Regions from separate parts of the Homo sapiens genome. Here regions 1, 2, 3, 4, 5 and 6 are each reported to be linked to region 7. Evidence: microRNA targets listed by miRTarBase, many of them from high-throughput screens and not tested one by one. Region 7 holds a microRNA gene; each other region holds the end of a gene's coding sequence.

Region 1 (4,474 bases), not on the chromosome of region 7:
GGATCACCTGAGGTCAGGAGTTCGAGACCAGCCTGGCCAACATGGTAAAACCCCGTCTCTACTAAAAATACAAAAATTAGCTGGGTGTGGTGGCGCATGCCTGTAATCCCAGCTACTCAGGAGGCTGAGACAGGAGAATCACTTGAACCTGGAAGGCGGAGGTTGCAGTGAGCTGAGATTGCACCACTGCACTCCAGCCTGGGCGACAAAGAGAGGCTCTGCCTCAAGAAAGGAAAAAAAAAAAAAGATTAGGATGTTGTTTATCCTGGCAATAACATCTAGGCCAACAAACTCTGGAAGTCAGTACTACTGGTGCCAAAGGCACCTACCTCACTGACACACATACACTTTCTCATGTTTTCTTGTATTTTATAATACTTGCTGTGGTAGTGGAGGCTCCCAAGTTCTCCCTCCCCAGTAGGTGTCAAACAGTGATATAGATACAGCCTCATGAACTCAGTCTTGTTCACGGGCCCTTTCAATACAGGTACACAAAGTGAAAAGCTGCTAATCCACCACTCCACCAGACAAATAAATGGTTTAATTTTAATCCTTTGAAATAACTACTGCATCGAATATAATCTGTATATCTTTGGTTAAACTACTTTCTCACTGGCATCAACATTTACATTCTCTCATTTATTATCTCTCAGGCCATTATTCTCTTATTCTTCAAGTATTCCCAGAAAAAGTTTCTAACATGAAGAGAGAACAGACAAATTTCAAGGTTTAATAAATTTTATCTTGATAACATCAAAAACAAGTTTAGCTTTTACACTGCAATATAAAAAATACATTAGTCTTCACATTAGTTTTACATGGAAATATATAATTATTTGAATATTTAAATATAGCTTTTCTTTAACCAAAAAAAAAAAAAAAAAGTGTTACTCACAGCCCTAGTTACATAAATAATTTAAATGCACAAATGCAAAAACACACTTCACACGATATTGTTCACATACTGTAGAACTCAGGACAATTACAATAAAAATCTACGCAAAATACTGAACAAGAACAAGATTAAAATACTCATTATGGTCGTAATTTGACTTTTTACTATTAAAAGAATTTAATGCATTCTTGAACACACAAAAACATCAATTGTTTTATCTATTCTGCAAATTAAGCCAACATTTATTTAGACAAAGGGGCACATCTTGTATACTACCAAATTCTGAAAGTAATTTCCAATTTAATTTAAATTATAAGTTTCAACAATTTCAAGTTTTCAAGCTTGTCTAAAATAATGATTACAAGAACTTAGTAAACAAAACATTTCAAAAACTTTAAACAAAATCATCAGTACTGCACTGTACTTTTATGTCTGGTAATATAAAATTTAAATATAAACCTTCTCCCTGCCCCCAATGAAAATGGTACTTAGAAGGGCTTCCAATGTGAAAATGGTAACATTTTTACAACTTGAAATTTTAATTACTTGAATTACAGGAACTGTTCTCTCTGCATGATGTAATCACGATATGACACATCATAGGTACATAGTACACATTTTCATTTGATCTCTTGCTTTTAAACTTACACTGAAAGACTGTAGAATGTCTATTAATAATATTTAAGGGAACTATGTGTCTATTCCATAGGGAAAAAAGACACCAATACCCACAAATATCTTATATATCAGCTGTTTGTTTACTTCCTAGTCAGTAGGACAAAGCTTTGTTCCTAAATTAAAATTGGAGGATTATTTTGAACTACTGGCCCAGTGATCTTTTAAGAAATGAAAATATATTTGTGTATGAGGAGGCAAGGTTGAAGGAAATGAGATATATGCTGCTTTGCAACTAAAGACAAAAACATTTGTTTTTAAACATAATTACTATTTAAATTTAGAAGTAAAGAAATCACAAAAGAACTCCATCATAGCATACACACAGGTTAAATAATGGCCCCTGAAATAAAACCACATTTAGAAACCAACTGTTACACTATATTTCATTATTTCTAAGGTAACACATTTTAAATTCTGAAATCAAGATATGGTTCAACATTGACCTTAGTTTCAATAAAATATGGCAGTCATACAATATAGTTGTAATTCATGTTTCCTCTTAACATTAATGATAGAAGATCCAGGATCTTGGCTTAACACGAATGAATGACAACTGAATGCATCTGTACCAACTCAACCAGTGTCCCTGAATAAAGGTTCTGGATCTATTCTGAGTATCCCAGACTCAAACTGCATCTCGTTAACATCTTTCATTTGAACTGTTAAAATCTGTTAACAAATAGTTAAAGACAAACTAATGTATAAATACAGGTTTCCACTTGCAAAATGGGCCTCCACAAAGATTACCAGTTTTATTCAATTTTTTGAAATATTAAGTAATTTTCTAATGAGAATTAATGGCCTGCCCAAATATTACCAAGCCAATAATTTCAGTTCAAGTTATTAAAAACTGATATGGTAGGCTGGGCATGGTGGCTCATGACTGTAATCCCAGCACTTTGGGAGGCTGAGGCGGGTGGACCACAAGGTCAGGAGTTTGAGACCAGCCTGGCCAACATAGTGAAACCCCCAACTCTACTAAAAATACAAAAATTAGCCGGGCATGGTGGCGCACGCCTGTAGTCCCAGCTACTCGAGAGGCTTAGGCAGGAGAATTGCTTGAACCCGGGAGGTGGAGGTTGCGGTGAGCTAAGTTCAGGCCACTGCACTCCAGCCTGGGCAAGACAGTGAGACTCTGTCTCAAAAAATAATAATAATAAATAAACATAAAAATAAAAACTGATATGGTAATGCCTAAAATATTTTTAGGGGATAAGGCCACAAAATAACCTGGATTTTCATATTAAGCCACCAACTCTTCATGTAGAAGAGAGTAAAGGTGGTTAAAAAAAAGGGGGGGAATGCCTAAACACATGGGCAAAATTATTTTCCCCTTTAAGATCTAATAAGGCTAACCCAAAAAACCTAGAGACTGTATGTGTGCATGTGTCCAAATGATAAAAGTTAGAGACTTGCAGATCCAATTTAAATGAAGCAGGAGGAGTTTGTGCTATGCATAAAAAAAATCACCAGTTTTTAAAAACTGTATTAAAGATTATGGAATCTCATTTTCTGGAATGCTTTAAAAAGAAAGAAAACTTATATTTTGTTTGTATTCATTTAAGTCAACCCCATTCAAAAGTTGACATAATTCATTATAATTCCTTCTTTTTAATAAGTTTGCTATATTCATTCTCACAATGTTAAATTTGCTGGCATGAGAGAGATAATCATAAAAAATAAGAGGGATATGATTTGAGGAACAAAATTCTATATACGGTGCTAAATTATTTTGTGACATAAATTAAGATGAAGTTCTTCTACAGAAAATGTTGGACAAAGGCTGTTTCTGAATCTTAAAATGAAAGGACTCTAAACACTAATTTTAAATGAATATAAAAATTCTGAAAAATAATATTTATAGCAAAATAGTTCAAGATTAGTTTTCTCACCAAAGCTGGGAAAGCTGTGTGCACAAAGTACCAAATATATTTCAACTGAAGTACTGAATCCTCAACTAGCCTGAACACAAAACCAACTTCTATTTTACCTCATTACCTCTCAGTTTGTTTGCTAGCCGAGTCATCATTCTCTCACGTTGTTGTAAACAAGATGAGCTTCTCAGATCATATGCTCTCACAGGTGTAGAAGGACCTTTCTGTCGGCCATGGTAGCTTTCATCAGTCTTCTTCCTCCTTCTTGCAACGCGGCAAGAAGCCCGCACAGGTCGCTTTGGAGGAGGATTTGCCATAGCGCTTGACAGCTCTTCGGCACCAGCTGGTGGAACTGAAGAGTTCAAAAGCACTTTAGCTGTTCTCTTCGCCTTCTTTAGCCTACTGACAACAGATTTTTTCTTCTTCAGATACCTTCCAAGAAAAGCGCTCCTGGACTGATATCTATGACGTAAAAAGACAGAGTATTTCGAAATATACTTTCTAATGATATCACTTGGTTTGGTCCGAATCCAAATTGACTGTTTCTCTGAAGCTTTTCTGGGTTTTTGCTGGAGAATAATTGGTTTATAAACCTTTTTGGGAAAACCTAGCTTATTACTACTAGTTGTCACCCTCTTTCCATGAATTTTCTTTTTACTTTGACTTTCCAAAAGCTTATTTCTAACTGATTTTGGAGAGATTTTGACAACATCATGATTTAAAAATGTTAGCTGGAAATTTCTTTTCTTTGGAAGCTCACGAGCATGCAGAACCTTTGATTCTTCCAGAAACAGAGAAGAGTCACTGGTTCCCTGATGTGAATTAAATCCATATCTTGCCGGCACTGCCATTAAAGGCGCTGAAGCAGAGCCTTGTCCATCAGCATCATTATCTCCTGCACTGGAGTTTTGGTTGCTCCTATTAAAATGAATTTTAACCCAGTTACGCCTCTCAAACTCTGGTACTATTACACTCAGGGGAGGACTAATTACAATTTGCTTAATCAAGGGCTCATAATAATCAAAGA
Region 2 (4,474 bases), not on the chromosome of region 7:
GTTTTTTCTTTAGGCTAAACATTCCACATTTCCTTAACTGTTTCTCATATAGTATGCCCTCTAAGCAATAGAATTAAGAGGACTAGGGTAGCCATGCTTTGGCAGGACTTTTCTTCTATGGTATTGTTGCCAGCAACAACAGGTTCCTGAACTGGTAAGAGGCTTCTCTCCTCTTTCCATTAGAAGGGATAGAATTCTTGTTACTTCTCAGATTAGTCCCTTCTAGGGACAAGACCTACTAATCTGACCAGGAAGGAAATGAACATGTAGGTGACTGGGGCTGGGAAAGCATGGGACAGGGACTGGTCACTTCGCACATATTTTCCATGCTGTGATTTTGGGAGAAAACTGATGTGGTTAGGAAGGAGAAAGTATGGACACCAGAGTGAGCACAATTTGTTAGTCATGAGAATGGCCTTTTTCCATTGCAGGTTACCCTACCTGTAAAGAAAAAATTAAGAGAAGGCCTGGCGGCCGGTCTGAAGTCATCTATAATTATGTACAACGCCCCTTCATCCAGATGTCATGGGAAAAGGAAGAAGGGAAGAGTCGCCATGTGGATTTCCAGTGTGTTCGAAGCAAATCCCTCACGAATCTGGTAGCTGCTGGAGATGATGTCTTGGAGGACCAGGAGATATTAATGCATCACCCACCCCAAGTGGATGAACTTGACCGGCTAAATGCCCCACTTTCTCAGATGGCTTCTAACGACTTTCAGGATTAGGGCCAGCTGTGGGTCTACTCCTTGTTGGAGCCCATCTCACCTGGGATGCCTGCAGCCAGCCCTCCCTCGTGATTTGTCTCACCTTGAGTAGGAGACATGCTTCTCCCCTAACCTTTTCCTTTCTGCCATAATTAACATATGTCCTTTTCAGTAAGTCCATGCCTCTGGCAGGGGATGAAGAAGTACTCACTGGTAATTAGCTACCATCTTTGCAGCAGCCCTGGTAACTTGAAAAATTTGGGTCTGGTGCTGTTCATTGAGTCTTTGTGTAACTGCAAAAGCAGGAAAGGAAGTCAAGACTCCTGTTGCCTCGTGCTTAGCAAAGCAGTCCTTATCCTTTATACTCTGTTCTTGGGTTTTGTTTTTGTCTTGTTTTATACCAGGCAAATTGCTTAGTAGCAAAGGGACCAAACTGAAAAGGTGACAATCTCTAACTTCTAAAAGCAGACACCAATCGGATGCTCATTAGAGGTTAATGAAGATGCCATTCTTGGTGGCCTCTGCACCCAAATTGCATCTGGAAAGAACTAGGGTCTCATTCAGAATGTCCAAAAGGAAATTCTTAAGAGCTTAAATTCAGATTTGTGTCTCATTAATGCAGTGAACAATTCAAAACCACACAGATTCCTTGGCAGGAAGGATAATGGAATAACAGTGTTGATGAGACCTTTTTAGCTTCAAGGTTTCGGAGTCTAAACAAATGGATGATTCATTTGGAATGAAACTCACAATGCAAGTAGAAGGACCTCTCCAAATCAGGCCAGTTGGGTTATCCTGGCTTGGAATCTGGTGTGAAACCATAGGTCTTAACACTCTGGAGCAGCACATTGCTGTGGATATGTCCAGGAGACCTTAGATATGGCTTAAAGGCTTTCAAGATGAGGACAGAAATTGCTTACAATTGCTCAGTTTCTCAACAGAAAGACTCATAAGAGTGCCAGCATGGGGTACATGGAGTGAAGCTGGGTGGGAAGCATCATCTGCACAGTCCCTGTCCTAGTGCAGGACTTTTCTCTGTATGTTTTCATACCATGGGATTTTTGGATATCAGTGTATTTTGGTTCTTGAAATAGCCTAATAGCTGCTCACACATTGGGTAGGAATATTATACCAATGTCATCCCCAAAGGAAGGGTGAGCTGAATGGAAATTAAGCCCAGTCATTTTATTTGATCTATTAGCTCTGTTATCAGTGCATGATCACCCAGATCACCCTCCTCAGCCCACACAGTGCTGAACCATCTTCCCTCCTGTTCTCCATGGCTATTAATAGTATAGCTAAATTTAGAGTGCAGAGCCAGATATAAGTATTTTGGAATTATCTCCCAGTTTGTGGTAGAAGCTGACTGGAATACAGGTTGAGTATCTCTTATCCAAAATGCTAGGGACCAGAAAGGTTTCAGATTTTTTCAGATTTTGGAATACTTAACAGTTGAGCACCCCAAATCTGAAAGGCTTCTGAACGTCATGTCAGCACTCAAAAAAGTGGATTTTGGAGCACTTCAAATTTCGGATTTTTGGATTTGGGATGCTCATCCTGTGTAGGAGAGGCTACTCGATTCCATTTAATGACTGTCCTAGTCATAATCATCCAAAGATAAAAGCCAGGTAGATGTTGAAAGCTCTTTCCAGGGCTGAAAAAGTGTTCTTACGTTCTCTGCATGTGACTAGCATCACTGTGGAAATTAATGCTCTGTTCTTCACTAGAATGTAGTAAGTGGTTAAACTGAGCTATCCCCCACCTGATGACTATTGGCATCCATTTGCAAGGCCAATGGCCTGGATTAAGGGTTAGGATTATTTGTAGCTAGAAGGTAATTTTATTTCTGTGAAACTAATTGGCTCATATTTGAGGTTAGGTGTGGCCTTGACCTTACCAGTACATTTATACCCACTACCAGTTGACTAGCCCAGATAATTGTTAAATGGTGCTTCTTTTCTGCTTCTCAGTAGACTTCCATGCCATTACAAAGGAAATTTGAATTACCTAGTGTTTGTATATTCCATGATAACTATGTATAACTTCTGTTACACAGCTTATGTATTGTTAACATTTAAGTGTAAACCATGCCACAGCTAACACTTAAAAATGAAAACTAATTAGTTCTTGCTTAGGGAAAATGCCAGGTATGAAGTATGGCATATACTTGACACTGTCCTGTGTAACCCTTTACTTTGCTCAGGCTTTCAAGATTGAGTCTTTTTTCCCCCAAATTAGGTTAACATGCATTTGACCCCAACCTGTGGGGTTTGAGTAAGCTGGAAATCTGTGACGGTAGGCTTTCTAGTGTCACGAGGTGGTGGTGACTGAAGGAAAAGCTGGGATCACAGGTTCCTTCTGATGGAGAGGAAGGTTTATTTCTATGCCCCTCCCACCACCCTCCACCTAGAGCTCACCCAAGCCTGCTCCAGTCCCAGGGGCAGGCCATTCTGCAAAAGCAGGACCTCACAGAAACAAGGGCTGGGTTGAGGTCACCCCCTTCAGAGTTGGTTCCTGGCCAGATGGGTAAGAGGCATTTGTAATTTTAAAAATGTGAAACTTGGGTTTGGTGTTTTCTTCTAAGTGCCTAAATAAGCAAGCCAGGCTGTTGATATTTTAGCCAGAGAAATCGGCAAGCCAAGATTAACCCGAATCTGAAGTTTAGAATCTTGAGTTTGCATCTGCATCATATCATGCTGTTTTGATGAGGAAACATTTGCCACTGAGGAGTTGGAGGGAGGGCAAGACGACAGTGTTAAGTCAGATCATTTAATGGTTTCCCCTAAGCCCTGGAAAAATATTTGAAAGAATGGCAGCAAAAAGGTTAAGAAAGCAAGCCAGATTTACTGCACAATATGCAGTACCCAGTACTACTTTAAATCCCAAGAGAACAGTGTGATGTCTAATATATACAGGTCTATGAAAATACTGTGGAATAAGCCCAGGAAGGTTAGATGTGTTTGCAAATAAGTTGCCCAAAGGGTCCCCCTCTAAGTAAAACAAATATTCAGACCACAGGCTTTAATGTAAACTGTCAAAAAGTGGGATGTGGAGGATTTTTGTTAAGTGTCAATCGAAGTTAAAAAGCAAGGGTTTTTGGCCAGGCGTGGTGGCTCACGCCTGTAATCCCAGCACTTTGGGAGGCCGAGGCCGGCAAATCACCTAAGGTCAGGAGTTCGAGACCAGCCTGGCCAACATGGTGAAACCCCGTCTCTACTAAAAATACAAAAAAATTAGCCCGGTGTGGTGGCAAGTGCCTGTAGTCCCAGCTACTTGGGAGGCTGAGGCAGGAGAACTGCTTGAACCCGGGAGGTAGAGGTTGCAGTGAGCCACGATCATGCCACTGCACTCCAGCCTGGGCAACAGAGCAAGACTCCATCTCAAAAAAGAAAAAAAAAAATTAAAGGTTTTGGCTGGGTGCAGTGGCTCATGCCGGTAATCCCAGCACTTTGGGAGGCCAAGGTGGGAGGATCACTTGAGGTCAGGAGTTTCAGACTGGCCTGGGCAACGTAAAAAATTAAAAAAATAGCCAGGCATGGACATGGTAGTGCATACCTGTGGTCCCAGCCACTCAAGAGGCTGAGACAGGATGATTGCTTGAGCCCAGGAGGATGAGGCTGCAGTGAGCCATGATGACGCTACTGCACTCCAGCCTGGATGACAGGGCAAGACCCTGTCTCAATATTTTAAGTCAAGGGTTTGTAGTAATGTATTCAGTGCCACTTCTTGCCATCACTTTGCAATTATTGAAATGGGAATACTGAGCTCAGA
Region 3 (4,474 bases), not on the chromosome of region 7:
TCAGCCCCATGGCCCCCCGCCTGTCAATCCCCAGGGTCAGCCCCATGGCCCCCCGCCTGTCAATCCCCAGGGTCAGCCCCATGGCCCCCCGCCTGTCAATCCCCAGGGTCAGCCCCATGGCCCCCCGCCTGTCAATCCCCAGGGTCAGCCCCATGGCCCCCGCCTGTCAATCCCCAGGGTCAGCCCCATGGCCCCCCGCCTGTTAATCCCCACAGGCGGTTTTTCAAGTCCCCCCATTTTGATGGCTGGTACCGGCAGCGGCACAAGGAGATGGCCCTGAAGCTGGAGGCCCTGCACCTGGAGGCTATCTGTGAGGCGGTGAGAGAGGCTGGGGGTTGGGGAGGGCCAGAACATGGTGGGGGTGGGCACAGGCCCAGGGCAGTGAGGGGCCTTGCTGACAGTAGACCCCGTCTTGCCCTGCAGAACATCGAGACCTGGATGAAAGACAAGTCCGAGGTGGAGGTCGTGGACCTGGTCCTGAAACTTCGTGAGAAGCTGGTAAGATGCCTCCCAGCCTTGTCCCAGCGCCACCAGCCTGGCACGGAGCTGCGCCTGCCCTGACCATGGCTGCCCCTCCAGGTGCGGGCTCAGGGCCACCAGCTCCCTGTGAAGGAGGCTACGCTGCAGCGGGCACAGCTGTACATCGAGACGGTCATCGGCTCCCTGCCCAAAGACCTGCAGGCTGTCTTGTGCCCTCCCTAGAACAAAGCCAAGGGCCACGGTCCCAGGGCCCTAGGTCTGCCTGAGCCTCCCACTCCCCAGTGGTGGCGGCACTGGGCCAAGCACACGCTCCCCTTCCTTGGCCCCCCGCCCAGACTGCAGGCTCCCCTTCCTGCACCACCATTGTCTCAGCAGTAAAGGCGACATTTGGAACCACAGCATGGCCTTGACCATAGGGGTTCCTCGCAGGCAGAGCCTTGCCTCCTCCTGGGTCCCACCTGGCCTCTGCAGACCTTAGGCTGGGACGGGGGCGGGGACAGGCTGGGAGCCCTTGCTGATGTGGGTGCGTCTACCGTCTGCCCCTCCCGGTGCCCATCTGTTGGCCCCCGACCCCCCTGCGCTGTGTGTGATGCTTCCCTCAGCCCAACAGGCTGCCCAGGACAGGAGGGACCCTCTCCTGACACAGCCCCCGTCTTGTCTGGGGATGGGAGGCTATTTTGCATATAGTCATCAACTTGAGAAAGGGAGAGACCACTTTGCAGTGTGAAGAGCTCTGCTCACCACCCCTGGTGCTCCTCTGGACACCCACCTGCTTGGGGCTGTGGTTTGTTGGGAGGTAGGGGTTGGGCAGGGGGCTGTGTGCAGCCCAGCACCTCTGCTAGGAGAGCTGGCTCAGCCTGGCTCTCGGAGAGCCACAGCACCTTCCTGGCTCCCAGTCCTGGAGCCCCCACCAGGCACCAGCTCCGTGCGTCCCTTCTGGGAGGTGGACAGGGCTCCTGTTGTCCAAGTGTGTCCGTCCATCCCCCACATGCAGCCCAAGGGGCTCTGGACTTCGGCCTGACCCTGCCTCTGGCTGGAGCCTGCATGTCTCCCTTTCCTTGGTAAGGGGTGAACGTCCCTAAGAGCCACCTCTGGGTTGTATGCTCCCCCCGTGACACCTGCAGGCACTGAGGCCGGTGAGGTACGGTGTTGACCCTGCACAGCACACAGTGACGGTACTGTCAGGGCTCCGGACAGCCAAGCCCTGCTCAGCATCACGCACTGTGTGCCCGGGAGCAGGTCCCCTGACCACTCAGACCCTCAGACTCCTCATCTGAGCGAGCCAGCCATGCAGATGCCCGACAGGGTGCTGGGAGGGCCACTCATGGAGACTGGGCTTTGTACCCTGTGAGGCCGGGCGGGTGCTGGCCAGGGGACACAGGGCTGGGGGAGGGACTTTTTCTTTTTTTTTCTTTTTGAAATGGAGTCTCGCTCTGTTGCCCAGGCTGGAGTGCAGTGGCATGATCTCGGCTCACTGCAAGCTCTGCCTCCCGGGTTCACGCCATTCTCCTGCCTCAGCCTCCCGAGTAGCTGGGACTACAGGCACCCACCACTGCGCTTGGTTAATTTTTTGTATTTGTAGTAGAGACAGGGTTTCACCATGTTAGCCAGGATGGTCTCGATCTCCTGACCTCGTAATCCGCCCGCCTCGGCCTCCCAACGTGCTAGGATTACAGGCATGAGCCACCGCGCCCGGCCGGGACTTTTCTTTTTCTTCTGAGGCCCCCATTCAGTCCGAGGAATGTAGCCTTCATTCAGCGCAACGTACTGTTTGTGTTCTCATTGGTGCTCTCAGACCTCCAGCCAGGTGGTGGAGAGCGAGCACTGCCAGCCACTTCAGTGCAGGATGTGACTGAGCCACAAGGACAGCGGGGTCAGGTGTCCGGGCGCCAGGTAGTTCTCAGAACTTGGTACATGTCAACTTGTCCAGCCCAACTGCAGCCCAGGACAGCCTGTCCCTGTTCCCATTCTACAGACAAGACGCGGAGGCAGCCGGGAGGGTGACCAAGGGGAGCTGTTAAGCCCCAGATGTCTGGTGCAGGGTCCAAGGATGTGACCACATGAAACAGAACACATAGAGGCCGAGGTGGCAAACCTGTTCTGTGGCAGGGACAAGCCGGGGACCCGAGGGTGAGAAAGGTCCTGGCCCCAAATGCAGCTTGGGCCTCCTGACTGTAGCACAGGGGGACCAGCCTCCCCACTGAGGGCTTGGTCTCTAGAGGGTCTGCAGAGATGCTGGCACCTCTTGTGTGGGCAGCTTGAATGCTGACCTCCATAAGATGGGGCCTGGGGGGCCAGTACAGGCCCTGCCATCAGCTGCCCTCCACCAGGGCCCTCTGCAAAAGCCTTATGCTGGTGACCAGCCCCCTGAGGACCACCACTTCAAGGTGTCGGGGCAGCTTGGGAAGACAACCCACCTCTCTCACAACTGTGACCCCACTTTGGGGAGCGCACCCCAAGGACCGTGGCAGCATGTGCTTCCCCACAGCACAGTCTCGCCTCACTTGGCTTTCTGAGGGCTGCCGCACAGCACAGAGGGCTGCAGACCCACATGGCTGCAGGGGAGGGGCTTCAGGCTGGTCTCTGAGGAGCCCCCAGGGACCCTGGCCACTGTGTATCCAGAAATGCACAAGCAGATTTCCCTGGAGGGCTCTGGTGAGGCCACATAGTGGCGTGTGAAGGGGGAACTTGAGGGGGGAACCGGGCTGGGTGGCCAGCATTGCCCTGGGCAGAAGCTAAGGCTAAGGTGGGGGGTAGTGTCCCAGCCCCTCTTCCTCAGGGCCTGTCCCCACCTGTGCAGAAGAGGCCTGGGGTGGAATGTGGCCTGGGGTGGATGGGTGGGGGCTGGGCGTGGAGACCTGCCAGCTCCATCTGTCCGGATGCCTCTTGTGGCCCCCCCAGTGTCAGGGCCGCTCTGAGTTGGCTGAGCCTCTGTCCAGGGCTAGGCCATGGCCCTCCCCGCCCCACGCACTCCAGGCCAGGGGCAGTCAGTGAAGAGGCAGGAAGGTCCAGACAGCTCTACCCCTGGCCAGAGTGCCAGCCCCCGCAGGCAAGAGGGCTTGCTGGGCAGAACTTAGTTGGCGAGGGTGAGGACTGCTGTGGTCACAGGCCTCCCGAAGGACAGGGACCACAGAACCTAGAGGGTGGGAAGGGCTGGGAGCAGGTCTGGAGTGGGGCTCGGGGCTGAGGGTGCACACAGGGGGCCTGCTCAGGGACAGGAAGGACAGCTGCTCACCCTCAAGCTTCCTGCTGGCTATTTAAAGACTCCCTTTTAGTCTAGAACAGTGGCCTTCCCACAGTTTTGGTATTAAAATGTCCTTTTGTGACTGGACCTTGTCTTTTCCTTTTTTGATAAAAAGTTGGCAACCTTGTCAGAACCTGGTAATTTTGGGGTCCTCTGCAGTGAAGGGTAGGGTTGCCGTGATGTGGATTGTGGTTCAAGGCCCAAGGGAAGATTTTGGACAGGAACAAGGCCTGGCTGCTTGAGGGTGGGAGAAGGCAGAGACTGAAAGAACTAAGTCAGGCTGGGGGAGTTTGTCAGGATGTGGCGGGGCGGATCCCGGGTGGGGGAAGCAGAGGAGGAGGGGATGCCTGGCTGGGGACAGGAGGAAGCTGACCAGCTGCAAGGACGGGGCAGGTCTGGGTGGAAGGCGGGCCCCAGGGAGGGGTGACCCAGGGTGGGGGCAAGAGCTTGGGGAATGCTTCTGTCTCCTGCTCAGCACATCCAGTTCCGGGAGGGCAGTGGAGGCGTGCTCCAAGGTCTGGCCCTGCAGACGGTTCACCACCTCTTCTCAAGCCCAGGGGACACTAGGAGCACTGAGGCCAGGACTTGGGACCTGGGATGCCAGAAGTGGGGCCAGCTCTGTCCCAGAAACCAGAACCCCCAGAAAGAGGTCTCGGCCCGCCCACCTCCTGGCCCTGAAGGACCAGGTGGGGTCCCGGGTGCAGCATCCCAAGGTGCTGCTGGAGGCCAGGGATGTGCTGGGAGGCCATC
Region 4 (4,474 bases), not on the chromosome of region 7:
ACATGAGGCGGCAACAGAAATACATTCACATACTTTACAAATGAGTTAAACAAGAGTATGTAGCTGCACTATTTATATTCGCCCAAATCGTAAGATGACCATCAAATGTAGGATGGATAAATGAATTATGGTACTCATGCAATGAACATTACCTGCCAGTGGCCAGGCGCTGTGGCTCACACCTGTAATCCTAGCACTTTGGGAGGCAGAGATGGGCGGATTGCCAGAGCTCAGGAGTTTGAGACCAGCCTGGGCAACGTGGTGAAACCCCGTTTCTACTAATAATACAAAAAATTAGCTGAGTGTGGTAGTGCACACCTGTAATCTCAGCTACTCGGGAGGCTGAGGCAGGAGAATCACTTGAACCCAGGAGGCGGAGGTTGCAGTGAGCTGAGATTGTGACATTGCACAATCTAACACCCACAGCCTGGGTGACAGAGCGAGACTCTGTCTCAAAAAAAAAAAAAAAAGAAAAGAAAATTACCTGCAAGTGAGAAGGAGCAAAATACATGTGCAACAATGTAATGTGATCTGTGTAATAATGTGATTTCCCTTAGGATGTGGCTGATGAAGAAATTGCTGCCCTCCCCCGGGATAGCTGTCCTGTTAGAATCAGAAATCGGTGTGTTATGACGTCCCGTCCGCGTGGTGTGAAGCGGCGCTGGAGGCTTAGTCGTATAGTCTTCCGTCACTTAGCTGACCATGGGCAACTTTCTGGGATCCAGCGAGCGACATGGTAAATGAGCTCCAGAACCTATTGAGCTTGCAGGGAAGCCAAGCTTGCAGTTCCAGCAAGCAAAGATTTTTTTTAATAGACCAAACCCTAATCTCTACAGGGGCCCAGTACAGTTGTTTGGCCTACCTGATGCTATCTCTAAACTACTTTTAAAATGAAGACATTTGGGTGTTTCATGTCAGTGAATTATCTTTTCTCTTGGACTTAACAAACATACTGTTCCCATACATAGTACAAAGAGTAGCATAATAAATATTTTCTGTGAATGTTTTTTATACCCTCCTTTTAAGTTTAATCTTTTAGTAACATATAGGGGTTTTTGTATTAAGAGCATTATTTCATAAAATGCTATCTTATACATAATCCAACTAATTGACATGTAGCTCATGTATGGCAGTTTGTAATCCTGGACTAGCTTTGCTGACCTGCAGAGCTCCCCTTAACTATTATTGTTAGATAAACAGATTGGATAGCAAGGCTGCTGTTCTGGATTATCTAATGCTCCACTTCTTCTTGTGATGGCTGAACAAAAGAACCACTAAGTGTTTTCTTGTCCATCCTTAAGGGACTTTAAAACAAATTATGCCTCTTTAAGTCCTTGAAAGTCTCCATCTAAAGAGGAAAAGTTTGTTGGAACAGTATATATTCCCTATTTTTATGTTTATTTAATCCATAACAGAAATGAGTAAGGGTAGCACAAAGTTCTCATTCAGTAACTCAACAGTGTGATCATCAGCCCAGTGATAAAAATATACATACTGAATGGAAGTACCTACTTAACATCAGGAAAATATTCCTGGAGAACTTAATAAATCAGGAGGTGAGGGGTGAGATTTTTTTCTGCACACAGAGGGAACAAAAGCACAAAGAAGCAAAGGCACTCTGTAGCATCAGAGAACCACAGTCACTTCAGTAGATCAGAAATATGAAGCACAAGACAAGGCCCGTATTGTGGAGGATCTCACAAATCATGTGAAGGAATTAAGACTGACATACCAGGTATTACAGAGTTTTAAGCACAGGAATGACATCATCAGTTTGTAATACAGGTAAGTGACAGCTGTGTGGCAGATGGCCATGAGAGGAAAAAGCTACAGGCAAGACAACCAGTTAGGAGGATGTCTTAGTTGTTGAGGAAGATGAAGGCCTGAACTAACATTGTGGTATTAGTAGAGGAGAGAGGACAGATTTTTAAAGTTTTAGGAAAGAAAATTGGGCAAGACTTACAAGACTGATTATATCTAAGAGGTAAAGATGGTTCTCTGGGTTCCTGATAAAAGTGTCTAGATAGATGGTAGAGGGCAATTCCAAGAGGGCAACTCCAAGATAGAAAATTTGGAAAAAGAACAAATTTAGGGGAAACAGAAGATAAGCGAGTTCAGGTTCCAGTCATGCGGTGTTGGAGATGCCTGTGTCATCTGATGAAGACTAGTACGCAGCTGGATAGCAGAGTCCGAAACTCAGGTGGAGGTGAAGTTATGAGGGAATTATCACAATCTAGTTTGGATTCATATTTCTTAAATATGTATGACAACTTACCAACTGGAATGTTCTAGCTAATATCTCAACTTAGAATCCATCTCACTACCAATGGGCAAACACTTGTGTTCTAAAGTTACTTGCAAGTAGTTTATACTGCCAACTTGATATATATACATGCTATAGTTTGAACATTTTGTGTACTTCCAAAATTCACATTAAAATCTAATCCACAATGCGTTGGTATTATTAAGAGGTGGGGCCCTTAGGGGTGATTAGGCCAGGAGGGCTCCACACTCATGGATGGGATCAGTGCCTTTCTAAGAGGGCTTGAGGGAGAGAGTTTGTCCCTTTTACCCTTCTGATACTGCGAGAAGGCACCGTACTGGAAGCAGAAAGCAAGCCCTTACCAAACACCAATCTGCTGGTGCCAAATCTTAGACTTCTCCAGCCTCCAGAAGTGCAAGAAGTAAATATTATTTATAAATTCTTAGTCTATGGCATTTTGTTACAGCAGCAGGAATAGACTAAGACAATGTGTTGATAGGTTTAGGGTCATGTTTTACTTTTTCAGTCATGTTAAATTTTAGATGGTTCTAAAGTCAAAACTCTAGAAAAAGTTAAATTCACAGAATAGCTTCCATCCTCATCTCCTTCCTTCCCCTGCTAACAATTTTTATTAGCTTTGGGTTTACTCGTTTCTTTTTGAAACATAAGCAAATACACCTATGTGCATACATTCACATTTCTCACCCTTTCTTACACAAATGTAGTGGGTATACCATAAATGTTCTGCACTTTGCTTTTCCACTTACTCTATCCTGGAGACCATTTTACGTTATATAGAACTCTTCATTGTTTTGTGACTTAAGTACTCCCTCATGTGGATGCACCATAATACATTCCTGTTAAATAGACACGAGTATTTTTAATCTTTTGCATATAGCATTCCAAATTTTTCTAAATGTACCTTTCAGAGCCCAGAAAGAAGTTAAAATTCTGGGTCAAAGGATAAATGAATATGTCATTCTGATGGTTATTACCAAATACTCTTTCTGAGACAAGAGTCTTACTCTGTCACCCAGGCTGGAGTGCAGTGGCACAATCTCAGCTCACTGCAACCTCTGCCTCCCGGGTTCCAGTGATTCTCGTCCCTCGGCTTCCCAGGTTCAAGTGATTCTTGTCCTTCAGTCTCCCGAGTAGCTGGAGTTACAGGCATCTGCCACCATGCCCAGCTAGTTTTTTTTATTTTCAGTAGAGACAGGGTTTCACCATGTTGGCCAGATGGTCTTGAACTCCTGACCTCAAGTGATCCGCCCACCTTGGCCTCCCAAGGTGTTGGGATTACAGGTGTGAGCCACTGCACCTGCCCAAATATTCTTGTTAACCAAAGTTTAACTTTTGCATTCCATTCCCATATATGTGTCCTTATTTCTCCACAGCCTCAACTCAATACAGTTGTTTTTATACTTCTTTTTCAAGTGAAAGGTAAAAACACTGGTTTATTCTCTTCTGAACAAGGTGAGCATCTTTACATGTTAAAGGTCATTTACATTTCTTTTTGTATGAAGTATTCTTAATTATTGGAATCCTGTCAATACATTGTTTGCCTTGGGTTATGGTGGGGTTTTTCTTGTCCTATAAACATTTTTATGTAGTTAAAATTGATCAATAGTTTTATTTATTTCTTCTAGGTTTTAAGTCACATATAATGTCGTTTTCCTCCATTTTCTTCTAGTATTTGTATGCTTTACTTTTTACAATTAGATCGTCAGGCGGCTTGGAATATATCTATATGCCTATTTTCAGTTATCTTAGTATCATTAAAAACCCATCTTTACCCCACTTTTACCATATTCTGTAACTTTCATATGCATTGTGTCTGCTATTCTGTTCATGTGTCAACCCCAATTACAGAGGCATAATGTGTTTCAGTATTTACTTATAGCTATCCTATACATAAACTGTTTCTGTATTTTAAATCCTACCACTTCTTCCAAATTCCCATATTAATTGTAGCTTTAGTTTAGTTTACCCTTCTGGATTTTTCCTGTGTGTCTAACGGCTTTTTTTTTTTTTTTTTTTTTAATGAGACAGGTTCTCAATCTGTTACCCAAGCTGCAGTACAGTGGCATCATCATAGCTCACTGCAGCCTTAAACTCCTGGGCTGAAGTGATCCTCCAGCCTTAGTAGCTGGGATTACGGGCGCCAGCCTTCATGCCTGGCTTCAATTGCTTTCTCTGATCTAACTGTGTTGG
Region 5 (4,474 bases), not on the chromosome of region 7:
AAGTGACCCTCTTGGCACCCTTTCCCCTCAACCTTCACTCTAAACGCATGACCCTGGATGCCAAGAGCGTGTAACAGTCTCCTCAGGCAAAAGGAAATTAAAGTTTACTAACAAAAGCATGGTCAGACAGGTAAGGTACTATTTGTGGAAGGAGAACGTCTTTCAGGTGTTTCTGACCTACCTAAAAATAACTAACCTACGTTGCAGCCTCTCTGATAAAGGCAGGGCCAGGGCCAGGGCCAGGGCCAGAGCTGTTTTTAGGTTGCCCTCAGCTTCACCAAGTCCTCTTAGCACAGCTTAGAATGAAGCTAACCAGAGGAGACCTGCTCTCTCTCTTTGGGATTATACAAAGCTGGCTTTTTTGAAAATATCTAAATCTTCCAGCCAATCACCAGTCATTTATTTTGCAGCAATAAAGTTATAATTCAACATTAAAAAATAAATAAAATCCCCCATACCTAACCTTTTTGGTGGAAATAAAAAGCCCAAATTGTCAACATAGTCATATCTCCCAAATGTGCAAATTCTATTAATTATAAAATTTCCAAATTATATATCAATATAAAATAATGAGATGGAATATCTTTAAAGAAGCTCATCTGACTAACTTATATTTGAATTTAACAAGGTAACAAGATCTATAAAAATAACTATCAGCACTCCCCAATGCTCAGTCTGTAGGTATTGGCATCCTTTGAACTATTTATCAATAGACTACAAAATAATCTCTACTTTCACATTATTTAGAATTTTCAGACCTGGGTGTATAAAATTCACAGTACATTTTTCAAGATTTAAAATATGAGAAGATACATAAACATTAATAATGTACTCACTATAATGCTATGTGTCCCAATAGGCCCCGATCTCATTTGCTCCTCTCAACAACTCTGTGAATTAGGTATGATTCTCATTTCACCAATGATGAGACTATCAAGTAACTTGTAAGTGAAAGTCTGCCTGACTCAAAAATATATTTTAAAAAAATTACTTTATATAGTAGCTTAATGTAAGGAGTAATAAGTGAAAATTGGCTATTGGGCATGTTAGCAAACATAGTGTTTAAACATAAAAACAGTTAACCTATGTTGCAGCCTCTCTGATGAATACTCGGCCTTGTAACTTGGCTTCTTTAAATGGTTTAAACCTTTTTTTCATGAGTGTTTATTGCTTCTATTAGACTGTGATTTCACTGCAGGCAGAAAAGGGACTAAATTTTCTACCCTTTCGAACACTAATAGACTGCTGAACACTATTTTGTAAATGTGGGTACTTAACAGACCTTTTTTTAGTAAATCTGAAAACCAAAATGACTCTTAATAAGGTTCAGAGTATAAAAAATAGTTCTCACTTAAAATAACATACACCAAAAGAATATAAAAATATTGATTTATTACCAACAAAGCAGGATTTCCCAGTTTTTTCAATTACACACACACAAGCACACACAATAGCAGAATGAAATTACATTTTTCACATCTAAAGGTTTATACCTCAAAGAAAATAGGCATGTGTCCAAAAGACAATTAGAAAGCAAGAAATCTTTCCTTTTACTTTGAATATGGAAAATCTTTTAACAGAGACTCTTTCCAGGCAAACCAATGAAGATTTAGGCATAGAAAATGCTTGTCACCTTAAGGTTTTTAAATATAACTGTATTCACCAAATCAAGTTTTTACTAGAAGTTTTTACGATTTTTATGTAATTAAAAATCAACTTTTGGCCGGGTGCAGGGGCTCACGCCTATAATCCCAGCACTTTGGGAGGCCGAGGCGGGTGGATCACAAGGTCAGGAGTTCGAGACCAGCCTGGCCAATATGCTGAAACCCCATCTCTACTAAAAGTATAAAAAATTAGCTGGGTGTGGTGGGACGCGCCTGTTGTCCCAGTTACTTGGGAGGCTGAGGCAGGAGAATCGCTTGAACCCGGGAGGCGGAGGTTGCAGTAAGCCGAGATCACGCCACTGCACTCCAGCCTGGGCAACAGAGTGAGACTCCATCTCAAAAAAACAAACAAACAAACAAACAAAAAAACTTTTGTTTTAAGTGGCTGAGACTATGTGCTAGACTTACTACTGTTTAATATGCTAAAATGATACATAATTTATTCTTCACAGCTCAAAATTCAATGTAAAGCCAAATATTAATTTTGTCCAGTAGAGAAATTAAATGTTTACAAACAAAGTATGGAACAGTTGTTGGCCTATGTAAATTGAAATGTAATTGACCATTTTATTTTCAAACATGCTTAATCTTCACGTGTCTTTTTCACATTGATACTCATTTTGCAGAAATAAGATGACTGGTACTAATTTAGACAATAAACAAACTACACCAAGCACATTTTAGTAAAGATATTTTGGTGGAACGCAAAGTAATTAACGATGAAAACATTTGGTAATATCCATTTACTAATATGTTACCAAGTTCTTCAATGTTTACATGACTTGCTCATATTAGTAAAAATGTCATTTTAAAATATTTTCACACTTCATGCACTGGAGTTAGTTTAAGAAGGGAAGGCTCTTTTAAAATGTTTATAAAGAAGAAAATACCTTTTTAAAGAGAAAATGTCTAAGTGAGAGGACATAAACTTATGGCTCATTATTTTTTGACCTAGTTAAGAATATAAATTTCAATGGCTACTTAAGAATATACAAAACCCAAACTGAAAGCAATTCTTCAATTTATTCAGGCAAGCAAGTCAAAAAAATAATTTTGTCATTACTGGCACAGATCCAATCCACTGTTCAAAGACATGACTTTGGACTGTCTATTTTCCTATAAGATTTATTTTTTAAAAGAAGATAATTTGTTTGGTTCTACTAATTAGTATAACTTAGAGATAAACAAATGATTTTCCCATTTAATTCTTTTGCGGTGAAAGAAAACAGTTTAAACTAGATTTTCTAAGATAATGGGTACATCAACATTGTAAGAAAGGCCCTATAGGCTTAAGTTCTAAAAACATTACGGTTTTAAAGAAATCAATGCTTTTCCATCACTCTTTACATAACACTGAGAAATTTCAAATATAAATTGTAGAAACCAGTATATGAAATTTTAAGAAAAATCTTACTAAAAATAATTATAAAATGCTTTTAGAAATGTAAGATGTAAAATATAATTGACTTTAAATAAAATAAAAAAAAGCAACCCCTGCCCCCACACTTTAAAAGGTTATTCTTTAAAAACCCTTGTCACCTAATTTTATTCTCAGTCAATCTTTTGGTTGTATTTTGCATCATCTAGTGGCCACCTTGCAGCATTTCAAAGCAGTTCTGCTACCATTTTTGAACCCCAGTGCTTTTTTCCCCTTGAAATACCAATAAAATTATAGCATCAAGTTTCATAAAACTTTCTTTTAAAGGCCCATAAAATTCCATTTCCTACTGGAGATAAGGTAATCTTTTTTAATAGGAAGAAATGACTAGATCTGTCATAAATTATTACTATACATTAGACATTTTCATATCAATTTTTTAAAATTAAATATAACATTGGGAGAAACTAGGACTTAGGCTCTAGAGTCATCTTTAGGCTCTAAAAGTAATTAAAGTTACTCTGCAATTAAAGCTCAGGGCTACCATATAAGTAACTTCTTGTGATTAACCCTTCTTCCACTGTACCTTTGATTTGTAATATTAAGTACATTTTAACATGAGAACTGAATGACTCATGGTCAGAGTGCCAAGAACTCAAGTTCAACCAAGACTGAAGAAGACTTAACTTTTACTACCAGCTGCTATTTTGGAAAGGTCATTATAGTTTCCATTATCAACCTATTTGTATTTAAAAGCAGGTTTCCAAAAATAACTGCTTTTCGTTTTAGTGAATCTCCTTTTATTCAGTTGAGCCATACTTATAAACAGAATTTAACAAAAAAAATTCCCAAGTTCCCTCTCTTTACTTTTATTAAGAAGGTTGAGTGAATGTAATACGGCGCCGCCGCCTTTGGAAAGCCTTTAAATTCCATGTGTTTGGTTCCAGCATATGAGGGCCATTGTAGACAAACAAAACTGTCATCTTTTCAGAATAAGGAAGATTTTGCAGGAGCTGTAAGTATTAAAACAAATTGTCATATAAGCTATATACTGAGAAGTATAGTTTTCCAACCTTACATGTGTACAGTCAAATGTATTATTTTATTTGCAATATTAATAAAACTTTTTTTTTCCCACTCTGCTGCTCAGGCCGGAGTACAGAGGTGCGATCTCAGCTCAGTGCAACCTCCACCACCCAGATTCAAGAGATTCTCGTGCCTCAGCCAGCCTCCAGAGTAGCTGGGATTACAGGCATGCACCATCAGGCCCAGCTAACTTTTTGTATTTTTAGTACAGACAGGGTTTCACCATGTTGGCCAGGCTGGTCTCGAACTCCTGACCTCAGGTGATCTGCCCGCCTTGGCTTCCCAAAGTGCTGAGATTACAGGTGTGAGCCACTGTCCCCAGCCAATAAGACTCTTAAGAAGCTCT
Region 6 (4,474 bases), not on the chromosome of region 7:
CGTTCTAGTGTTGTTATTAATTTTTAGAATTTTTTTGTTTCCATCTCCACTTTTATATTTCCCTTTTGATCAGAGACCATTAGTTACATTATTTTTACTCTTCAGCATTAAAGTTTCATTTTAGCCTTGTGTTTAGTCATTTTTTTGTGAGTGTTTCATGTCAACTTGAAAGCAAATCACAGGATCTCACTGCAGGACGTAGTGCTCTATAGAAGACAATGAGATCTATCTTATTAATTATGTTATTGGATATTATGTAGCCTCTTAAATTTCTTGTCCACTTATCCCTCGCTGAATCCCAAAATGCTATGAACATGCATACTTGATGAATGAATGTGTGATGTAGAGCTCCTGTGGTCAGCTAGAATTGTGTTTTGTTTTGTTTTTTCTTTTATAGCCAAAGATTGCTGAGGAAAACTTAACCTATGCCGAACTGGAGCTGATCAAACCCCACCGGGCTGCCAAAGGCGCCCCCACCAGCACTGTCTACGCCCAGATCCTCTTCGAGGAGAACAAGCTGTAGTACAGCGTCCACCTCCAAGGTTCTATTTAATACCTGCCACCCAGTGATTTATGAAGCCTTGGAGACAAAGCCCTTATGTCTGTATTTTCACTCATGCCTTCTGAGTGGTGGGGAGCCCCTTTTCAGCAGCATTCTGGGTGCCTTTGAAGAGGTACAAGCCTGCTCTCCCCAAAAGAATCGGGGCCACAGCTCTTGACAGATCTCCCGGGACAAGATGCGCCTGGGTTTGAGCCCTGAGCGTAAGGATTCTGATCCTGAGAGCAGCCAAGGAGATTTTCTGCTGAGCCAAACCCCTTCACATTTTTCTCCTCTTTCCCCAGGTTTTCTTTAAAATCGTTTTTAAATCTTAATTTTACTCTCTACTCTTCCTGTATCCACGATACAAGCTCACAGTATATAGCTAGAGGAAATGCCATTATGGACCCAACTGTAAGATGGCACATATGTTGGTTTTCCAAGGATCAGATGGCATTGCCAGGGCCACAGCCAACTGCTGATTGCCAGCACCACCTGAGATGGCATCTCTTGTTTTAAATAGATGCACTAACCCTGAAGATTAAGGCCAGAGGGGCAGACTGACTAGAGAAGTATAAGGTCTGTCTCTGAATGCCATGGTGCCCACCTATGAGACCCTGAGGCCGCAGGACAAGAAGAACACCATTCTAGAGGGCTTCCAGCCCTTTCACAAGGTGGACCTGTACTGATAGAGAAACACACTCTCTAAGAAGTGCTTACTCACCCTTTTCCAAAGGAGCACAGGTGTTGGCCATCAGAAGACACACTGGAGCGCATGGGCCTCTTCACTGTGTGCCAAGCTCAGTCACCTCTGATTCAGCCCCTGAAGGTGTCTGCTGCCAGGTGCCCTCAGGGTAGGAGAGTGGGAAGTACACGCCAAGCTGGAAAGTGTGTTCTGAAGACCCTCCTCTTGCCAAGTGCCTTGCCCATTGCAACCTTGTGTGTGAATTCTAATGGGTTTGAATGGGGGTCAGGGTGCATGGGGAAGTTGCTCTGTGGACCTTTGGGACACAGGAATCTTGGACTTACTGGCAGGGGATCCATTCTGAAAGCACCATCCTGTCAACTGTGTTATTGAGGACATTTCTTGATGTGAGTATAGTCTGGGTGGCTATTTACTGCCCACTATAGAAATTGTTTGACTATGTAGTGGACCATGTATATATGATAAATTATCTATTTTAAACACAGCTGGGGTATGAGTTGTGCCCTCTATATAGCTGTGTGAACTTGGCTAAATTTCTTATCCCCTAATGACCTCAGACTCCATGTTTGTGTAAAGACGACTTAACTTCCCATAGAATTCTTGAGGGTAAAATGGGATAATGAATCTTGCCAGTTCTAGAAACTGTAAATTGCTACACAAATGCTCTGTGTTGACATTCATGCTAAAGCCAGTCTGCATTTTCAAAATGAAAATTTCTTCACTATTTAAGGCTTTCATTGCAATAACTTTAAAAACCAAATATTTGTCCACCAACTTAGCCCTACAGTAATGTTCCCAAAGACTCATGAGAGTTTATGGTTTATTGGAAAGGGTCCAAATTGGAAGCAGATATTGATTTTCTGGGAGCAAACTGGTCTGCCTTTACAAAGTGGAAGTTCACCCTCTCTGGATAACACCTGTGTCTCATTCCTCCCTCTCTGCCAGATCTCGAAGGCACTGAATAAACCATGCAGCTTTTGAGGAAGAAAGAACCATTTGGAAGAACTCACTAGAACTTCTTTGAGCATCTCTTTGGGAGGGGAGGATATATGGTTAGCACACCATTTATATAATAATTATCACAGGGATTTTTAATTTTATCATGGCAGTGTTCTGACAGATGTATAGTGTTTTGAGGGCAGAGGATGATCTCCTAATTTGCCCAAAGAGCCTTATGGGTTTGTGGGGCTCTGGGGGTGCCAAATGGGAAGGAGAGGGGGCACATGAAAAGGAAATGGCGGGAAGAGGGCAACAGGCCAGGGGGTAATATCTTCCCAGGCCCCTTAGGCCTCTACAGAACGGAAATGAACTTCATTCACCCCCAAACCCACCCACTTAAATCCAAAGAGAGCTTAGGGTTATTATGCATGGACAGGAACACATTCTACCAAGAACACATGCTCTTAAGAGCTAGTAGCTCCCAGTTAGAGTCAAACCAGTCATTGTTATATTATAGATTGAATCCAGCCTCTTTCTCCCAAACTGTGGTCATCACTGCATGAATCCACACTAAGGTGTGTGAATGGGAACCTGCAGATTATCTCCTCCTACTGAAAATGCTGCCCAGGGGAATCTTGGAAGCTATGGACAGCATCCAGGCAGAGCTGGTCCCACTGTTATCTCCAGAAGCAAATGCCCAAGCTGTGCTCAGAACTGGAAGCAATGGATGACTTGTATCAGGTGCTTGTTTGAGAGGATATATTGACATTATTGCCATAGTAAGCTTAAAAAAATGTGCCCACTCATTCATTCTTTGTCCATGGACCACTAATCATGCATTGTCATTTCCAAAGATAAGGGGAAACATATCACATATCATTGAAATAGAAATTAGGGAAAGTTTGTCAATTTGTTTTCACTATAAGGCATCAATGGCAGAAACTACATATGAGTAATTTTCAAAATAGACCATTGCTTAAATGTTTAAATGAAGCTAAAAGAAGTATGAACCCATTGGTTAGAGTGCAGTGGCTTCTTTCAGGCAGACAGCAGATGCTCTCAGATTTGGTGGTGAGTTTTGGCCTTGGCATGGTTGGCATGGAGTCAGCACAGGAAGCCGGGAGGTATGAAGGGGCATCCACCTGGGTGAAACTGTCTTGCCAAGCCAAAGCCCCGAGGCCTGCCCTGAAGCAGCTGTAGTGGAGGAGAGGCCTGGGATTCCTTAGAGTCACCTTTTTACGAATGTACCGCCACTCTGTTAGCTCACAGGGAAAATAAGGAAAAGCCAGGCCTCCCACCTCTTGACTCTTGTGAGAGTGAAGACAACATGGGGCATTTAGAAAATATATTTTTAGTGTATGATAATGTGGGCTGGCCCACACAGCAATGAGCCCAAAGACCCCCTCGCTTTGGGAATTATTCATGGCCCTGCTCATCACAGCCTCTGATATGCATGACTGTAACCTAGGCTGAGCCAAGAATGGAGCTCATGCCAGAAATGGTCCTAAGCATGCACATGGCCCCCTGGAATATCAAAATCCTGGGGAGAAAGAAATCATCTTTGCCTTGGGCAGTGAAGCTGGAATGGCACATATCTATCTGTTGCCACATCTCCTGCCTAGTGGAGAAGCCTTGGAAGGCAACAGACACTGAGCAAGCAGCAGGGAGGAGAATGTCCTGGAAGGGCAGGACTCTACCCAAGTCCCTAACATCCCCAGACTCTTCTCTTCCATAAACTCTCTAATTACTCTGCTGTTTAAATCCTGGTTTTGGTCAAGCCAGTCAGGTTGCATAAAGAATATGAATACAGTATGCATCAAAGTTGCTTCCCAGAACAGGAAGCAAAACAAACAAACAAACAAACAAACAAAATACTGATATCAGTACCCAGGGTGCCCAATTAGGTCACACCCAGTGGCTGCATTGCAGCCCCTGAGCTCCTGCTGCACCGTGTGTCCTGCTGCCCGAGTGGGCCCCACCCTGGGTTCTGAAGATGCCCTTCTTAATGGAGAGCTCCCGATGGAGGGCTCCAGGACTGATGCTCTCCCTAAGGAAGGGAGGCCTCAGATTTGGAGAGGGACACCAACAGGACCAGAGGAGGACTGAGGGGCACTGGCACCAATAAGTGGAAGGGAACAGCGTGGTAACAAAAAAGAGCCATGCCACTTGCATGCTGGAGGGAGTCTTTTTGTGTCAGCCTAAAGCTTAGGCTGGTGTCCATGTGGAACATGACATCTTTCCAGTATCCCTGATCCAGGAAACTGCAGTGAGACCCAGGTGACCCAGCTCTG
Region 7 (4,474 bases):
GTTTACCTCAAGCCTTTATTATTGTAGATTGAAAGAAGTTTATATACAGGAAATATTTCCAGCAAAACACTCACCAAATGGCCTTCGAATCAGGGGCCCTCCACCTCCCAGCCCCACAATCAGCAGCTCTGCCTAGGACTCCCCTCACTTGGGGACCTCAGGCTCTCCCCCCACCTCTCTTTCCCCGGACTCCATCACCCCAACGTCATTCCCCAGGAGTCTCAGCTTTTTCTCTCTCCCTGGGGCGCTGCGAACCTCGCCAATGCCTCTCAAGCTATCTTCCTCTGGTCCCAAAGCAGACACCCCAACTTCCCTCCCATTTAAGGTGGTTACCTCACGGAAACCCAGAGCACCCTCCCCCTCAAGGTTTAGGTGCTGCTTTGAGGCCCCTGCAATTCAGAACTAGCTCGTGGTCAAGACCAGTTAGAGATAGTTCGTCATCAGCAGTGGGGCTCCTGTGCACCCAAAACAAGCGGGGGAAACTACCCTGCCCACCCCTCCCCATCCACGACATCACTTCCCCTACCAGGGACAGGAAACAGACACAAAAGCAACAGGGAACCCCCTCTCCGCGCGCGACAGGTGGGTGCCAGGCAACTAGCTCAGCTGAGCTGAGAGTCTCCTGGAACCCAGCTGCGCTCAGGGCGCGCGGGCGTGGCCAAGGTCTCTGTGCAGCTGCGGGAAGCACCGGGCCAAAGCACTTGGCTGAGGGCACGCTGGGGAGGGGGTGTAAGAAAATGCTGTAGAGGCAAAGTCCTGGGGGCACACGGACAAGGGCAAGCCATATCCCGCGCTCAAAAGAGGATTTCCAGTGAGCCAGGCAGGTGTGAATGAGACAGTTACAGAAGCAGAGTCCCAGGGAGGTAGGGGAGATTGTTCATGTGGCTGAGGGTGCAGACTCAGTCTGAAATGGTGGCTCAGCACATCAGTGTCACTGGGGCCTCGCCAAGCGTGACTTGGTTTGAGGCGCTTGCACGTGGGCTTCGAAGGCTCGAAGGCCCAGCCCACCAAGTTCAGTCAATTGTCCGTTGGATGTTTACACCCTCCGGGGCCGAGCGCCGTGCAGTTGCTCATCATAGCGTTCCAACCAAGTGCGCAGCTCAGAGACCTGGTAGCCGTCGGGGCCACGGCCGCCCTGGTACATAATAGTGCCACTCTGGATGACATAGAGACGCTCGAAGTAGGCGCCATAGGCCGAGCTGCTGGAGTTGGCCATGGTGTCGAGGACCAGAGCGCAGCCGGGTGCACCTTGCTGCAGTACCCTCGCTGCGCTGACCCGGTCCTCCAGGCTCCGGTGCTGTGGGATGATGTAGGGAGAGTCCGTGGTGACCCAGCCGTCGGAGGGGTGCGCTTCCTCGATGTAGATGATGAGGAAGTCGACGTCGCGCTGGTACTTAGTGACCAGGCGCTGGAAGGCGCTCATGCGCGCCATGAACGGTGGTCAGGTGCAGCTGCCGAAATTGAGAACCAGCGGGCGGTTCCCTTGCGCGTAGTCGAGGATGTGCTGGCTCTGGAAGCCGTCGGGCAGAACCACCTCGGAGTTGGGCGCCGGACCGCCCTCGTGCGCCTGCTTGAAGAAATCCAACTTCTGGCCATGCCACACCGCCTTGAGCGACGCCAGGGTGCACAGGCGGTTGTCGTCGGACACGCAGATGGGCGGGTCATCGGGAGGCACCTCCTCGCCTTCACTGTTGAGCTCCACTTCGGGCTCGGGCTGCCCCCGGCGGCGGCGGCCCAGGAAATGCTTGCGGATACACAAGAAATCGAGAAGCCAGAGCATGAAGGCCGTGCCGAGGAAGCGCGGGAAGAGCACGAGGCACGAGGCGGTCTGGGCGCAGAGCCTCAAGGAGTGAAGCAGCAGGGAGCGGAGCATGGTGGCTGCAGGCCCCGAAGCCCCCTGGGACCCCTCGCCCTCTCCGACCACCAACCGCGACGTGGCCTGGCGAGGCATCTGGGCTTCAGCAGTGCAGGGAGTTCAATTTATAGCGGAGGCTTCAATTGGCGGGAGACTCCACCTCCGGCCCGGCCCGCCCCCTTGCAACTTGAGCCCGGAGGGATCACCCAGCAGCGCGGCCAATGCCCTAGAAATCTTGGGCTGAGGGCGGGCGCAGGCGGGCGGAGGGCGGAGCGGCCGGGCCTGGGGCCGGTGGGGGCGGGCCCGGGCCCCGCAGCCAGCTCTCGGGGGCGGGGGACTCCGGCAGCCGCTGCCGCTGGGGACCGGGAGCCCGACCAGGGACCTGGGCGTCCGCTGGGGAGGTCCTCCAGCTGGCGCGAGCGCTGCGCGCCGCCCTGGTCCCCGCCGCCTGGCTCCGGCCCGCGCCCCCCTCGCCGCGCACCTGAGCCGAGCTCCCCGGCGGCCGCCGAGCCGCGCCGGAGCTCCGGTTCGCTTCCCGCGCGCCGCCGCCAACGCCGCCCACGCCGCTGCCGCTCGTGCGGGGCCGCTGCCCAGGTGCCGCGGGAGGCCGGGTCCGCGGCCGCCGCTTCGGTGGCCCCGGCTCCCGCCCCACCGAGGACGCGGGCCAGCGAGGAGGCAACTTTGCGTTCCCGCCGCCTTCCTGGCTCGCCCGCGGGCGCCGCTCGCCTGCCGGAGCCCGCCCGCCCGCCTCCCGCGCGCGCTCACACTCGCGCCTCGCACACGGCCGCCCCCCGCACCGCCCCGCCACGCACACCGCGCTCCGCGCCCCCCGCCGCTGCCCGAGGCTGCCGCGCGCCGCCCCAGCCCGCGCCGCCCTGGCCGCGCCCGCCCCGTCCCATCTCGTTCCAGCGGGGCGCCGCGGTTCCTGGGTCAGCGGCCGCCGGGGCCGGGCTGAGAGGTGCGGAGGGCAGAGCCCGCGGGCGGGTTACCGCCGGGCGCCGGAGACCGGAGAGCTGGGGAAAGCGGCGCCGGCCCTGCGCCCCCAGCCGACCCGGGCGCGGGGCGCCACGGGCGTGGGGCGCGGGGCAGCGGGCGCGGGGCGGCGCCGGCCCCGGGCGGCTCTCCCACTAGGGGTAGCTGTTGCCTGAACGCCGGAGCGCTCCCCTCTCGCCGCTTGCCTCGCCCAGCGCAGCCCCGGCCGCTGGGCGCACCCGTCCCGTTCGTCCCCGGACGTTGCTCTCTACCCCGGGAACGTCGAGACTGGAGCGCCCGAACTGAGCCACCTTCGCGGACCCCGAGAGCGGCGGCGCGACTCACCGCGGAGGCGCCCGGACGCGTCAAGTGCGTACTTTCAACCGTAAATGGGTGCTGAGCGTTTAGGGGTGCGGGGCAACTCCCTAACTCGTGGGGCCCTGGCCGGCCCTGCCGCGGCGTCCGAGACCTTCTGATCCCTCGCTGCGCGCGGCGCGGGGTTGGCGACTTGGGCTCAGGGGCGGCGGGGCGGGGAGGTGCCTTGACCTAGGGACCCAGAGGCCGGGAGCAAGTCTCCTTTCGCCTTGGACTGCAGTGTCCCCCAGGGCAAGGCCTGAACCAGGTCGCGAGGGTCTGTCTCCCGTCTGGGGAGCTGAACTGCCCGAGACACTGTCGCAGTCGCGGGGACTTGTCTGGAGCGGCGGGGTCTGAGCCCAAGTCGGAAGCCGCCGCCGCCGCCAGCGTCCCGTGCGCCTGCCGCCCCGGGACCAGCCGCGAAACTTCTTCTCGGGACGGAGACAGCGCTCGCCGCCCGGGCCGAGGTAGGAGCTGGCTGGGCTCGGTAGAGCGCGGGCGAATCGCTTTCGGCAGCGAAGGAACGTGTCGGGAGAAGCCAACTGCAGGACCAGGGCCCCAGCGGGCGCGCAGAGACGCCTGCCTTGGGCGGAGGTCCCCCCCTCCGGTTTTCGTGGCTCTGGTAGGGCCCTCTGTCCCGTGAGCTCCTCACTGGACCTGAGGCTACAGGCTTCAGCAGGTCAAGCGCCCGAGTGTGCCTGGAGGATTGGCGGCGGGGTGGCATGAGAAGGTGGCCCCTCTTCTCCATCTCCCAGTCAGGCGATTTCTCTGCTGTCTGGGGCAGGGGCGCACACCCCAGGAACTTACTACGTAGAGGGAAGCCAGCCTGGTCTCTCCCCCTTGCGTCAGTGCTCCTAAGCTGCCCCTCACCACTCTGGGTAGGGGTCTTTCAGGTGGGCTAGGGAATTCTCCTTGGAAGTCCCCTTGTTTGCTCCCCTCCATCAGGGCACCTCTGAGTTAGCCAATCATCCTCTTTTCTGGCCTCTTTTTTGCGGGGAGGAGAGTAGAGAGAGAAGCCTCCTACTCGGCAGGTCTCTGAGAGGAGGTTTGGGGGGGCTTCTGAGGTTGCTCCTCCTGGGCAGAGTCAAGGGGTGTTGAGGGTTCCAACTTTTACTGGACAATCTCTCAAGCTCTGATTCCCTGATTTCTGGGAGGTGTCAGTGTAGGGCTTGTGTCCTGCCCCACCCACACAGCATTTGGTGCAGGCACATGGGATGGTTCCCCAAGCCCTTTTCCCACAGTTAGTTTCAGAAAATGCATAAGCCACCTAAGGCTGGGAGAGCCTTTCTGTGC

Evidence for each region. The annotated mature microRNA hsa-miR-1247-3p reads CCCCGGGAACGUCGAGACUGGAGC and lies in region 7 at 3,099-3,122, shown strand. An mRNA with a match to its seed (bases 2 to 7 or 8) in the 3' UTR can be bound and repressed. Matches are read on the target gene's strand: a 7mer-m8 pairs with bases 2 to 8, a 7mer-A1 pairs with bases 2 to 7 and ends in A, and an 8mer does both.
Region 1: the mRNA of ZDBF2 is a reported target of hsa-miR-1247-3p. Seed matches in the 3' UTR shown: 7mer-m8 at 2,638-2,644.
Region 2: miRTarBase lists KCTD20 as a target of hsa-miR-1247-3p. Seed matches in the 3' UTR shown: 7mer-A1 at 4,008-4,014.
Region 3: miRTarBase lists DENND6B as a target of hsa-miR-1247-3p. Seed matches in the 3' UTR shown: 7mer-A1 at 1,709-1,715 and 7mer-m8 at 1,969-1,975.
Region 4: miRTarBase lists MRPS14 as a target of hsa-miR-1247-3p. The part of its 3' UTR that is shown has no 7-base or 8-base seed match.
Region 5: miRTarBase lists SMC5 as a target of hsa-miR-1247-3p. Seed matches in the 3' UTR shown: 7mer-m8 at 1,925-1,931.
Region 6: the mRNA of VSTM4 is a reported target of hsa-miR-1247-3p. Seed matches in the 3' UTR shown: 8mer at 726-733.

What each region holds. Positions count from the first base shown.
Region 1 is chr2:206,310,674-206,315,147 of GRCh38, reverse strand. It overlaps ZDBF2 (zinc finger DBF-type containing 2), which reads right to left. Exons shown (of 5, transcript NM_020923.3): 5 at 721-4,474. The coding sequence ends at 3,555. Among named protein-coding and RNA genes, the nearest start is that of ZDBF2, 38 kb to the right of the region's middle.
Region 2 is chr6:36,486,452-36,490,925 of GRCh38, forward strand. It overlaps KCTD20 (potassium channel tetramerization domain containing 20), which reads left to right. Exons shown (of 8, transcript NM_173562.5): 8 at 432-4,474. The coding sequence ends at 724. Among named protein-coding and RNA genes, the nearest start is that of KCTD20, 46 kb to the left of the region's middle.
Region 3 is chr22:50,308,367-50,312,840 of GRCh38, reverse strand. DENND6B (DENN domain containing 6B) reads left to right here. Exons shown (of 20, transcript NM_001001794.4): 18 at 216-318; 19 at 424-498; 20 at 580-3,811. The coding sequence ends at 702. Among named protein-coding and RNA genes, the nearest start is that of PLXNB2, 3.0 kb to the right of the region's middle. RefSeq lists a silencer at 4,124-4,173.
Region 4 is chr1:175,010,935-175,015,408 of GRCh38, reverse strand. It overlaps MRPS14 (mitochondrial ribosomal protein S14), which reads left to right. Exons shown (of 3, transcript NM_022100.3): 3 at 558-2,451. The coding sequence ends at 740. It overlaps CACYBP (calcyclin binding protein), which reads right to left. Exons shown (of 6, transcript NM_014412.3): 6 at 3,382-4,474. Among named protein-coding and RNA genes, the nearest start is that of MRPS14, 10 kb to the left of the region's middle. RefSeq lists a silencer at 2,550-2,750.
Region 5 is chr9:70,351,772-70,356,245 of GRCh38, reverse strand. It overlaps SMC5 (structural maintenance of chromosomes 5), which reads right to left. Exons shown (of 25, transcript NM_015110.4): 25 at 1,373-4,055. The coding sequence ends at 3,915. Among named protein-coding and RNA genes, the nearest start is that of KLF9-DT, 60 kb to the left of the region's middle.
Region 6 is chr10:49,015,699-49,020,172 of GRCh38, reverse strand. VSTM4 (V-set and transmembrane domain containing 4) reads left to right here. Exons shown (of 8, transcript NM_001031746.5): 8 at 398-4,474. The coding sequence ends at 523. Among named protein-coding and RNA genes, the nearest start is that of MIR4294, 32 kb to the right of the region's middle.
Region 7 is chr14:101,558,974-101,563,447 of GRCh38, reverse strand. MIR1247 (microRNA 1247) reads left to right here and starts at 3,026; the gene lies at 3,026-3,161. DIO3 (iodothyronine deiodinase 3) reads right to left here and starts at 1,953. Exons shown (of 1, transcript NM_001362.4): 1 at 1-1,953. The coding sequence starts at 1,951. The coding sequence ends at 1,037. It overlaps DIO3OS (DIO3 opposite strand upstream RNA), which reads left to right and starts at 3,026. Exons shown (of 2, transcript NR_152588.1): 1 at 3,026-3,196.